Linked DNA regions of Homo sapiens. The protein of the gene in region 2 interacts with the protein of the main gene of each other region in a pairwise test. Each region holds a gene or a part of one and is shown on either strand. Other genes may lie near its edges.

Region 1 (2,988 bases), 3.7 Mb from region 2:
AGTTGTGGGAGATATAGACCAGGGTTGCAGGTGCCTGGAGTACAGGGACAGCAGACAGGTCATGGTGGGTGAGGGGTCAGCTGGTGGGGCACAGATGCGTTTCCTCGGCAGTCCACATATTCATAGCTCTGAAAGACCAGCTGCTCTGAATGGCTCAGGTATGAACAGGTCAGGGTGCCCCTGGAGAGGAAGCAGGCCTTGTTGCCATGGCTGGGAGGAAAAGGAAAGCTCTGGCCCCATTATACTGTCTGGGGGTGGGGAGCGGGGAGCTCCCTCATTTGCCCTTCCCTCTGGCTCCCCACTCTGCCAAGGTACCTGGGACAGCTGCCCCACCTGTTTTCCAGCAGCTTCCAGACAGCCCTATGCCTGTTGCCCCTAATAACTTATAGGCAAGGTGAGACTCAGAAAAGGGGCTAGACTTGCTATTCCCAAGAGCCAACAAAGATTCATGGGGTCAGCTTGGAAGACTCTCTGCCCATGAGGTGTAGCTGAGTGAGAATGAAGTCAGAAGTGAGAGCAGGGATACCAGAGCTCCAAGCTCTACTTACTGGATGTGCAAAAGCACATGGTGGACTTTGATTTCCAGCCAGGTACAGATTTTGCTGAGAGAGAAGAAAAGAGAACGTGGGACCACGTGTCACATGGAGCAGCCTGTCAGCTCAGAAGATGCCTGCAGGTCCCAGTTTCCTTACCCCACAGAACTCTTTCCTTCCATCAGGTGCCCCCAAAATGTCACTCCCACCCCTTCCCACCCTTCAGGTGAGTGTAGCAGCATGGCTGCACTATCACTCTGACCTCCACTCACTTGGCCCAGGCACATGCTGGACCCCCATTCAGGAGACAGACAAAACATTCTTCTTCCTCAGCAATGCAGGCTGAAGAGCCCAAGGTCACATATTGTAAAGATTAACCAAATTCCAGCCTGTTTTTCATTCTAATCAAGGTCCAAACAAGCAGAGGCTGGGGACCCTGAACCCTTGCTTATTACATTCTCGGCCATGGGAGGGCAGGCCAGATGCTGGCTGAAGAATTTGCTAAGCAATCAGGAAAGCTGGTGGGTATTAATTGGGTCCCTAAGCCAGGCAAGTGGCTAGGGGAGAAGAGATCAAGGGGTACTCACTATGTGTTTTCATCCCGTATCTTGGTAGCTACTGCGTAAAACATCTGTCAACCAAATGGGCACAGGGTTAGCCCCAACTCCAGCTGCCCCTTTCCCACTACCACACATCCACACACCAGTGGGCAGGGCTGGCCAGGGAGAGGGGAGTCACCTGTTCACTGGCCAAAGGGCCAATGTGTAGGAGAAGGTTGTTGGAAACCTGCCCCACCACGAGGGACAGGTGCAGAACCTCGAGGGTCAGCTGTGTCACCATAATGGGGTAGTAGTTGCCATTGGAGATGTTTAAGATATTCTGGGGATGAAGACAAGGGAAGGGAGGAGTGAAGATGGCCCATCCTTAGGAAAAGCCAAACAGTTGCAAAAGCCTGGCTGTCTGGCCTGAGCCCCATCTACCATGACAAGCTTCAGGTGCAGAGGATGAAAACTGGGAGCCCCTTGGAGGGGCATTGAATGGTGAGGGGTCAACTTTACGAAGTTAAGCTGCCTCAGGATCCAGGTCCATCCTGTACAGCTTCTTTCCATTCAGTCCTGTCCATCCAGAGAGTCTCAGGCACTGTCACCCCACTCCACCCCTGTGGTTTACTTATCTGGCCCGGATTCTGACCCCTTACTGTGTAGAGTCCCAATCCTTACCATCTGTCATGGAGCTCATGGTTGCTCCTACTTCTCTTCAGGCTCCCAACACCCTCTGGGTGCCATAAGATCTCTGGCTTCCCATGCCCAGGGTCATAACACTGGACAAAGGTTACAGCGAAGTATTGCTAGGAAGGGGGGTTTGGAGCCAAGGGCACCCACCCACCGTTATGTTGAGGTAGATATCAGCCTCATCAAAGGCCACTGTGGAGGAGTTGAGGCCTGCAGGCTGCACAATGACGGACCGGGGAAACAGGAAAAAGACGATGAAGGAGGAGGTCACCAGGCAGATGAGCACGGCCAGGAACACAAAGAGCTTCCTGTGGGAAAGCAGGACCCAGGATGGAGGAATGGAAAAGTCTGAACACCAAGGAAACTCGGAGAGGGGGTTCAGACACTCCTCTCCATATACAAAGCTTTCCCCTGCACACTACCCCAACAACATTTAGCTCCCCAGATGTGGCCCGGAATGAGTAGGAGCACAGGATTGGCAGGCAGGCAGCCTGGTTTCCACTCCCAGATCTCTGTTCCCATTGACCCAATAACATGGAGCAGCCCACTTAGCCTCCTTAAGTCTCAGTTTCCTTGTTGGTAAAAGGCAGATAATTGTACTGACCTCACAGAATTTGTTATCGGCTAATATATGAAAAAATACTAATCACAGGTCCCTGCACATGGCAAAAGCACAATGAATGCTAGTTATTATCACTAGAAGAAATAAGTCCATATTTGGAAGTTCTGAATTTTAACATTCAGAACAGGACACCATCCATCCAATTCAAAATTCAGATATGCATTAAAGAGATAGTACTTTGTTAGTATCTTATGATGTGCACTGCTAATTTCTTTTTTTTTTCTTTTTTTTGAGATGGAGTCTTGCTGTGTCGCCCAAGCTGGAGTGCAGTGGCACGATCTCGGCTCACTGCAACCTCCACCTCCCGGGTTCACGCCATTCTCCTGCCTCAGCCTCCTGAGTAGCTGGGATTACAGGTGCCTGCCACTATGCCCGGCTAATTTTTGTATTTTTAGTAGAGGCGGTTTTGCCATGTTGGTCAGGCTGGTCTCAAACTCCTGACCTCGTGATCTGCCCGCCTTGGCCTCCCAAAGTGCTGGGATTACAGGGTTTTTTTTTGTTTTTTTTTTTTTTTCAGATGAGGCCTCGCTCTGTTGCTCAGGCTGGAGTGCAGTGGCATGATCTTGGCTCACTGAAGCCTCCACCTCCTGGGTTCAAACAA
Region 2 (3,655 bases):
CAGAAAAATGTATTATAGCTCCATATGGTAGAATGACCAGGAAGAAGTTTCATCTGGCAAGTCAATGTTTATTAAGAACTGACGGTGTGCACAGCATCACGCCAGGCTGGCAAAAAACAAAATAATCCCAAGCGATCATCCTTGGCCTAAAAAAGGCCTGAATACTACATTATAACGATCTAAAATCCAAACATCTTTTAGTGTGTCTTATAGTTCATTAAATTTTTGAACTGTTAAACACTGTAACTTGACTGCTTAGTCTGGGGAAGCAAAAACTATGTTGGCACAGCCTGAAACACTTGGGAAAATTTATTGCAAAGCAAGGATGCAGCATTGAGGGTTAAACATCTACAAAGCAGGAAATGATGTGAATTTTAACAACTGGCTTAGAAAGCTAACATCTCTTTAGAAAATAATCCTCTGTAAAAAAACAAAATACAAAAAGCCAAAGCACACTTCATTTAGTGGAATATATTATGCAGGACACAGAAAAGGCCAGTATGTTCTACAGCCATGTGCAGGAAATGATCTGGTTAAGACTAAAGGGCAGGGACAATGGGTTCTGAAAAATCAAACATGCAAACCAACACACTTTCAGACAGACTCAGGCAAGCAGTCCATCTAACCCTAAACATCTGTTAACAAATTCCTCCAAATTGCTGCTCAGACTAGGGGCAAAAACATCTTAATGCACCTGACACTGGAGCCACACACATACTCGGCACAATGGCAACTGCCCGCAGGCAGCTTTGAAATGCTGCCTTCTCTACAAATGGCCTAAGTTCTAATCATCTGTCTCTATCTGATCAGAAAAACGTTTCCACCATGTGAACTTCCACCTTTCTGTCTCAGACCAGCCCAACCAGGTAATTTTCACCTCTGCCTATTCCCCTTCAATTTAACTGCTTCCTCTTCAGGTTTTTGTCTTAGAAAAAGGGATTCTCTGTCTAGGTCTAGTCTCTGTGGCAATGCACAAAGTTCCTGTCATTTCCAGTTGGTTTCCTCATCATCAGTCTTCTTCAGACACCCCCAAAACAGATGGCGCTCAGAGATCTGAACTCCAGCCCCCACGATCTGTCAAGTGCAGGCCGACCCTCACCACGGGCCTGGCTTACGTTAGTGGTGAAGGTTCGAGACAGAAGCTCTTCTCGCTGTCTCTCCTGCTGCTCCCTTGCATGGCGCCGATGCTGGAAGTTTCTGAGCGCAGTCTGCAGGTGCTGGACATCATACTTTAACTGGTCAACCCGACTGGAATTGATGGAGAGAGAGATTAAATTCCAGGAACTCAGGGCAGCAGAATCTGAGGGGGCCAGGCTTTGTACTGAGGAAAGACGGCGTTTCCTTACTTCTCCCTACACCACCCCACACTATACCCCCTCACCACAAGATCTAATTTTGATCAACGATGTTGAAAGTCAAGAAGAAACTTGTGGTTAAAGTGAGATGGTAGCACACAAGATTCCAGCAGCTTGACTTCAGAATCTGTTGCTCTGATTCTGGATGCATGACAGAGAACAGGGGACAGGAAGCAGGCTCACTGACCTCTTCTTGACCTTCTATGGATTATATGGCTCTCCTGGAAGAAGCCCAAGGGCATCTTTGAGGTAAAGCATCCACAAAGTTTCATAAAACTTTTGGAAACAGGCGCTGGGGGTGGAGGTGGCAAGGGTGGTTTCATTTTAATTTCATGCTGGAGTATCAAACATTAGATCAGCATTTCATTATGGGTGGACTGATTGAAGTGATTTTTCATTTCAACCCAAGAAGAACCCAGCAGGAACCAAAGAGCAGAACAAAACTCCATGGCAACATTAGGCTTCAGGTGGCTATGGATCTAGTCAAAAAACAGAACTGGAGGCAAAATTTCAAAATGACACCAAAGAGGTAAGGGGTCACAAGGTTTCTGAGTCACAAACCTCACAGGCTATTTATTTTGAGCGGCATCACTCAGATAGAATTGTGCCCTTTGAGGGGGCTTTTTCTTTGCATAGTCATAGTTTTTCAACATGTACGTTGGTTTTCAGAATATTCTATCACCTCCCCCAGGGAGAAAAGCCTGTCTTGATGGGCCTGGAGTATCAGAGCCATGTCAGAGGTCAGCACTTACAGTCTGGCATTTTGCCTTTTGTTAGGGGGCTCCTTGCTGGACAAAATCTCCAGACGTTCTAGACGGCTGAATATCTGGTCTATGCTTGCTTGGATTTCGTTTTCTACTACTGTACAAAAAAGAAAAAAGAATAATTGCTGGAAAAGAGATAGTGAACTTAAATTACAATGATAAATCACAGATTTTTTTTTCAATATCCAATAAACTAGAACTACATATTTCAAAAGGAGAAAAATGTATACACTAATGAATAACAGAAAAAATTCAAGTTAGGCCGTAAATGTTGTTTTGAAAAAAGTACATGTATATAGCTGTTAATGACATAACAATGCCAATTTTTTAAAAAAGCTGAAGGTAAATCTGTAGAAATAAATTTCCTACCTTTAGAAAATAAACATGCAAAGGTTGTCCAAATAAATACTTTAAGCTAAATTTTCTGATATAGGTCTCTTTTCCTTTGGGATTCTCAGACGTGGATTATAAATACCTAGAAAAAGGCTGCCAATTGAATTCCCTATAGTAATGAGTTTTTTTTTTTTTATTTAAAAAAAAAAAAGCATAAAGGAAGGGGAAGATTAGTATGTGAAACATACAGAGAAGAGTTCCCTTAAGGCTTTCTTCCCTTAAAGCTTTCTGTAAGAATGGGTGGGCTGAGCAATGTTGACGTCCCCAAAATAAACCAAATATCAATAGGAAAGGCCCAGGAAAGAATCCACAGAGGTAAAGAGATACGATAAATACGGTCATTTTCCCTATCCCTTTCGATAAGACAGTCAAAATGACCTCTTTCCATTTCTAATCATGTAACAATGAGATTGCTGAGAAGGCAAACAAAGTCCGATGAACAAAGAAGCTAAACTGTGCACAAAAGAAAGCATCCAGACTGCTTCTTGCCCCATAAAGAAGTGACAGCAGTGACACTGCCCCTTCCTAGCCCTTTGTGCCCACAGTGAACAAAGACAGTTGAGATTAGAACAAGGTGGGGCACAGAACCAAGAACAGAGCTGCTTTTGAAGCTGCGAAAGGAGACATGAGAGAACAGGAGGAATGGGTCCTGAGGGAGCCCAGCAGTGGGGTGGGTAGGCAGCCCCCGCAGGTGGTGTCCATATGACCAACTCAGAAAAAGGACCTTTCCTCAGAATAGAAAAAAAAAAAAAAAATGAAAAAAAACAAAAAACCAGCATGCTTCTCAAAAGAAACCATGCTGTGGGAACTAAACTAATTAATATTGCTGTTCGTTTCTGAATAATCCTCCTAAAAAGCCACAGTTCTCAGCTCAGAAGAAATGGCCAATTCCAGTTAAACATCTCTGAATTTTTATGGAGTACATTCCTCTAAGGACTAGGTAATTAGATTAAGATAGATGGAGGCAAGCGCTTCCATTCCCATAGGGCCATGTCAGGTTGAGTGGAGGGGTAATGGGGGATAAGACTTGTGGGATTCCAAAGGGCACACTCAGGGAAATCAGTGACTTTGCCATAGGGTTTTTCTGTCCACCCTAACAACAAAACTCATTCCACGCTGAATCATTAAGCCCCCAAGGCAGAG
Region 3 (3,655 bases), on a different chromosome or scaffold from region 2:
TGAACAACATAGTGAGACTTCATCTTTCTACTAAAAAAAATTAGAGCTGTGGAAAAGAGGCTTACAGAATTTGAATTAGAAAGAAACTTTTAGGATTACAAATTTTGATCTATAGTTTGAGTAAGATTACATGGCCTGCCAAACAGTCAGTTCTCAGGCATCCTGTCTCCAAAGTTGCTCAGACATCACTAGGTCATTGAACCATCATGGGACCCTGATGAGCTTGATGTAGACAACTTTAATTTTTTCCTCTGACACATAGTTAGAAGGAATATTTTGATGAGCTGTGGGGAGAGATGGTAGGACACATTGGAGATGTCAAAAACTTGGTTCTACAGAAGTGGGTCGAGTTAATTTCAGGGATTTTGTTTACTAAGCAGAATATGCAAGCTTCGGGGCCAGAATGACTTGTTCAGTACTCTTAAGAACCATGGACATGGCCTAACATATATCCAAACATTTGGATGACCCAAACACAATGGCCAATATTTGATATTTGCTTTTAAGGAAGTGTTTAGTTCTCTTTTCTAAGTATTTATCTTGACTATCTGTAATTTCTGATGTTTGTCAACCTGGACTCTAAAGCCAATATAAATTACAAAATTAAAGCCCAACCAAAGTTTAACTTTAACCTTTTATCCTTGCTGCCACAAGACATCAAGCAGGCCAAGAGGATTGGTGCTCTGTATGAAATTGTTCTTTTCCTTCAGACCTTTACATGTGTGCTGGTGGCTTTGCTATATTAAATATGAACAGACACTGAAACTCTGTCACAAAGAAGCAATAGCGTTCTATGTTTTAACTCACAGGCCAATTCTGACTAGATGATGACAGATGGTGGGTGCTCTGTGTTGTGAGAGATTAGGAACCATGTCAAGATCATCAGGAAAGAGTACTGTGATTGTAGGAGATGGAAGAGGTGGTGTATGTGCCCTATATTGGCCTCTTTCTATAGAGCATACCCTCAATTAAGGTTGCTTCTTGCCTCCATTCTGAGTTCTCTTAGGTCTTCGGCTAGTTTTTTGAGAGCCTGTTATTTGTATGGCTGAATGAGAAGAAAGTAGATTGTTCCTTAGAGTCTAGTTTGTTTGTTTAGGGTTGGAATGCTCTGTAATTATAGCTGGTACTGTTCTTGGAAAATGCGCATGGCAAGATTGGGTATATATTTGGTGCCTTATAGTTTGCTGGAGATGGCTTTGAAAGGCAATGACACTGTGAGGAGCTGAAGAGAGAATGGAGTGTTTACCTCATTATTTTGGCTGGTATGCTCTTTTTCCACAGGGTTCATGCTCACGAGTTTTGATCTATGAAGATAACAGCCAGGACAGAAATTGAACAAAGTGCACTGAAATATTCATACTACACTATGGTTATTTTAAAAAAGCTTTATATTCTAAATCTGTACTGTCCAATATTGTAACTACTGTCTACCTATAGCTATTTAAATTAATTAAAGTTAAATTAATTTCCTCAGTTGAGTACATCTTTTATGTACTCAATTGCCATATGTAGTTAGTTTTACCTACTAACTAGCACAGAAAATTCTACTGGGCAACCTTTTCTAGAATCTTGGCTTAACAGTTAAGCCATAAACCAATGTTCAGCAGGGATCTTGAGTGACTTGAAGGTGTCCTTTAGGGGCAAGGACCTACAAGTCCTAGGACCCTGGACTATATATATATAGAGAGAGGCTATATGCAGTTTTGATCTCTTGTTCTTGATCTAAGGATTTAAAAATATTTCATAAATAGAAATACTTCTTGACTGCATTAAGATTTAACTTACAGAGGGGGTCAAGAAATGGAGATGAGGTTTTTGGTTTGGATTTCTCACCATTTAGACTCTTGACAAACTCATTGTACTTTGAGGAGTGCTTTCCCATCTCTAATTTTAAATGTTCGTAGTTCAATACAGTGTACAGTTCTGATTTATATAATGTGGTAGCTGTAGTATGAGTCTAGAGATTAGTTTCATGCCTATCCCTTATGGTTGGGTGTCCATATATTTGGGGGAAGTGAGGATGGTATTAATGAAAAGGCCTTTCTGTGATATATAAGGAATACCCTACTTATCAAGGTGACTGACCACCAACTCTTTCTAAAGTACATGTTTTTACTCTTAATATCAACCCGAATAATAATGTGATAATGTGATAACATTACGAAGGGAGATGTGTTTCTGTGGTCTTTTTAGAAGGATGGGAGAATGACTGGAAGTTTTAAGTTGGTGTGATCTACTGGGGTCAACCAGATCACTAACAGAGGGCAAAGATATGTGGCGTCGGGACTCATTCAATTCCAAATAGAAATTGGTCTGAGAACTGTTTGCTCTGACTCAGGCTGAGATGGAGTTTCTACCAAAACCAGGATGTTCCTTTGCCAAAGCTCACACTTCTCTCTCAAGGAACAGAGCCTCTAGTTCTTCTTCTATTTTCTTCAACGTTTCCTGGTACTTCTTCAAAGAGAAACAAAGAAAGCCACAGTTACTACTTAGAAGGTTTACAATTTTTCTAAGCATAATAAGCACTTGTTATTACATGATACCATGAATGCTTGGTATTCCCACTGCCACTTTCTCTGCTTTCATAAAACTCACCCCCCTACTACTCTTGATCTCTCACTATGCCTTACCACTGGACAGGTTTCTGGGCATCATTGACATTATAAATAGCAGAAGTGTGAATTATTAACTTAACAGCACAGAGAGTGGGAGAGCAGGGCAGGAATTCCCAGGGAGACAAAGACAAATAGAGTGATATTGATAGTGAGGTGGGGTGCTGATGACCTTAAAGTATCCTAGTAGTGCCACCTTGAACTGTTGAAATTGCTCTGGACAGTAGTCTTTGAAAATCCTTGTTCTATTTCATCCTGTACCTTAATAAACCCTTTGCTATCCCTTTACCAAGAAGCTCTACCTTTATGTAGAGGGCTTGATCTTCACAGAGCTGGGTCACAAATGCATACTCCTTCATTACCTAGGAAATCAAAATTTAGTTGTAAATATATTTCGGTAAATTGCTATAAGAACACAAGCATACTTGTTTTCTCTTGGGTCCCAGGTCCTAAATGTGGTTTTCTAATTGTTCTAAATATGTTTTCTTTTTTGCTGTACAGATAAATGTATTTCCTTTTTTTAGGGTAAAAAAGCTAAATGGGAGTTATTGGTCAAAGGTGGAATTTGGGGGCAGTTGGGAGAGGAATAGATAGATAACTAATATTTGCGAGATACAAACTGTAGAGTGTATTCTGTAAAAAAATGTTTGAAGAGAAAGCAACCTCAGGGATTGTGCTTATCTTCCTTTTCTTTACCCCTCCCTAGCCCCATCATGGTCTTGGATCTGGAACCTTAATGTAAATCAATCACTTGAGAAATAGATTGCCTGACCAAAGATCACATTTCCCTTTTTGGGGAGAAGTCACATTGAAGTTCCTGCTGTTACCTTGAGCAGCTCCTTCTCTTGGCATGCATAGGAAGCTTCCAGCTGTTGTAACTTAACCTAAAGAAAGCAAAAGAGACTGCTAACTTGGCAAGGTAAAAGCTGTGCAGGAATGGAATGCTGTCACCAAGGTGGCCTCACGAGCTGTGAGGAGCCTCAGGGCCATGACTTCACACGTCTCCTGATAGAGGAATTAAGCCACCCAGCACCGTTTGCAGC

Evidence for each region.
Region 1: the proteins of GOSR2 (region 2) and TMEM106A interact in binary tests that used the Homo sapiens proteins (3 or more experiments, as listed by UniProt).
Region 3: the proteins of GOSR2 (region 2) and TMCO5A interact in binary tests that used the Homo sapiens proteins (3 or more experiments, as listed by UniProt).

Annotation. Positions count from the first base shown.
Region 1 is NC_000017.11:43,214,873-43,217,860, reverse strand, and holds part of TMEM106A (transmembrane protein 106A), read right to left. Parts: intron 2,074-2,988; coding exon 1,920-2,073; intron 1,413-1,919; coding exon 1,272-1,412; intron 1,165-1,271; coding exon 1,121-1,164; intron 603-1,120; coding exon 549-602; intron 181-548; coding exon 60-180; 3' UTR 1-59. UniProt on the Homo sapiens protein: Activates macrophages and polarizes them into M1-like macrophages through the activation of the MAPK and NF-kappaB signaling pathway.
Region 2 is NC_000017.11:46,929,660-46,933,314, reverse strand, and holds part of GOSR2 (Golgi SNAP receptor complex member 2), read right to left. Parts: intron 2,217-3,655; coding exon 2,108-2,216; intron 1,249-2,107; coding exon 1,116-1,248; intron 1-1,115. UniProt on the Homo sapiens protein: Involved in transport of proteins from the cis/medial-Golgi to the trans-Golgi network.
Region 3 is NC_000015.10:37,940,990-37,944,644, reverse strand, and holds part of TMCO5A (transmembrane and coiled-coil domain-containing protein 5A), read right to left. Parts: intron 3,497-3,655; coding exon 3,440-3,496; intron 2,975-3,439; coding exon 2,915-2,974; intron 2,455-2,914; coding exon 2,390-2,454; exon of another isoform or gene 2,358-2,389; intron 1,305-2,357; coding exon 1,247-1,304; intron 1-1,246.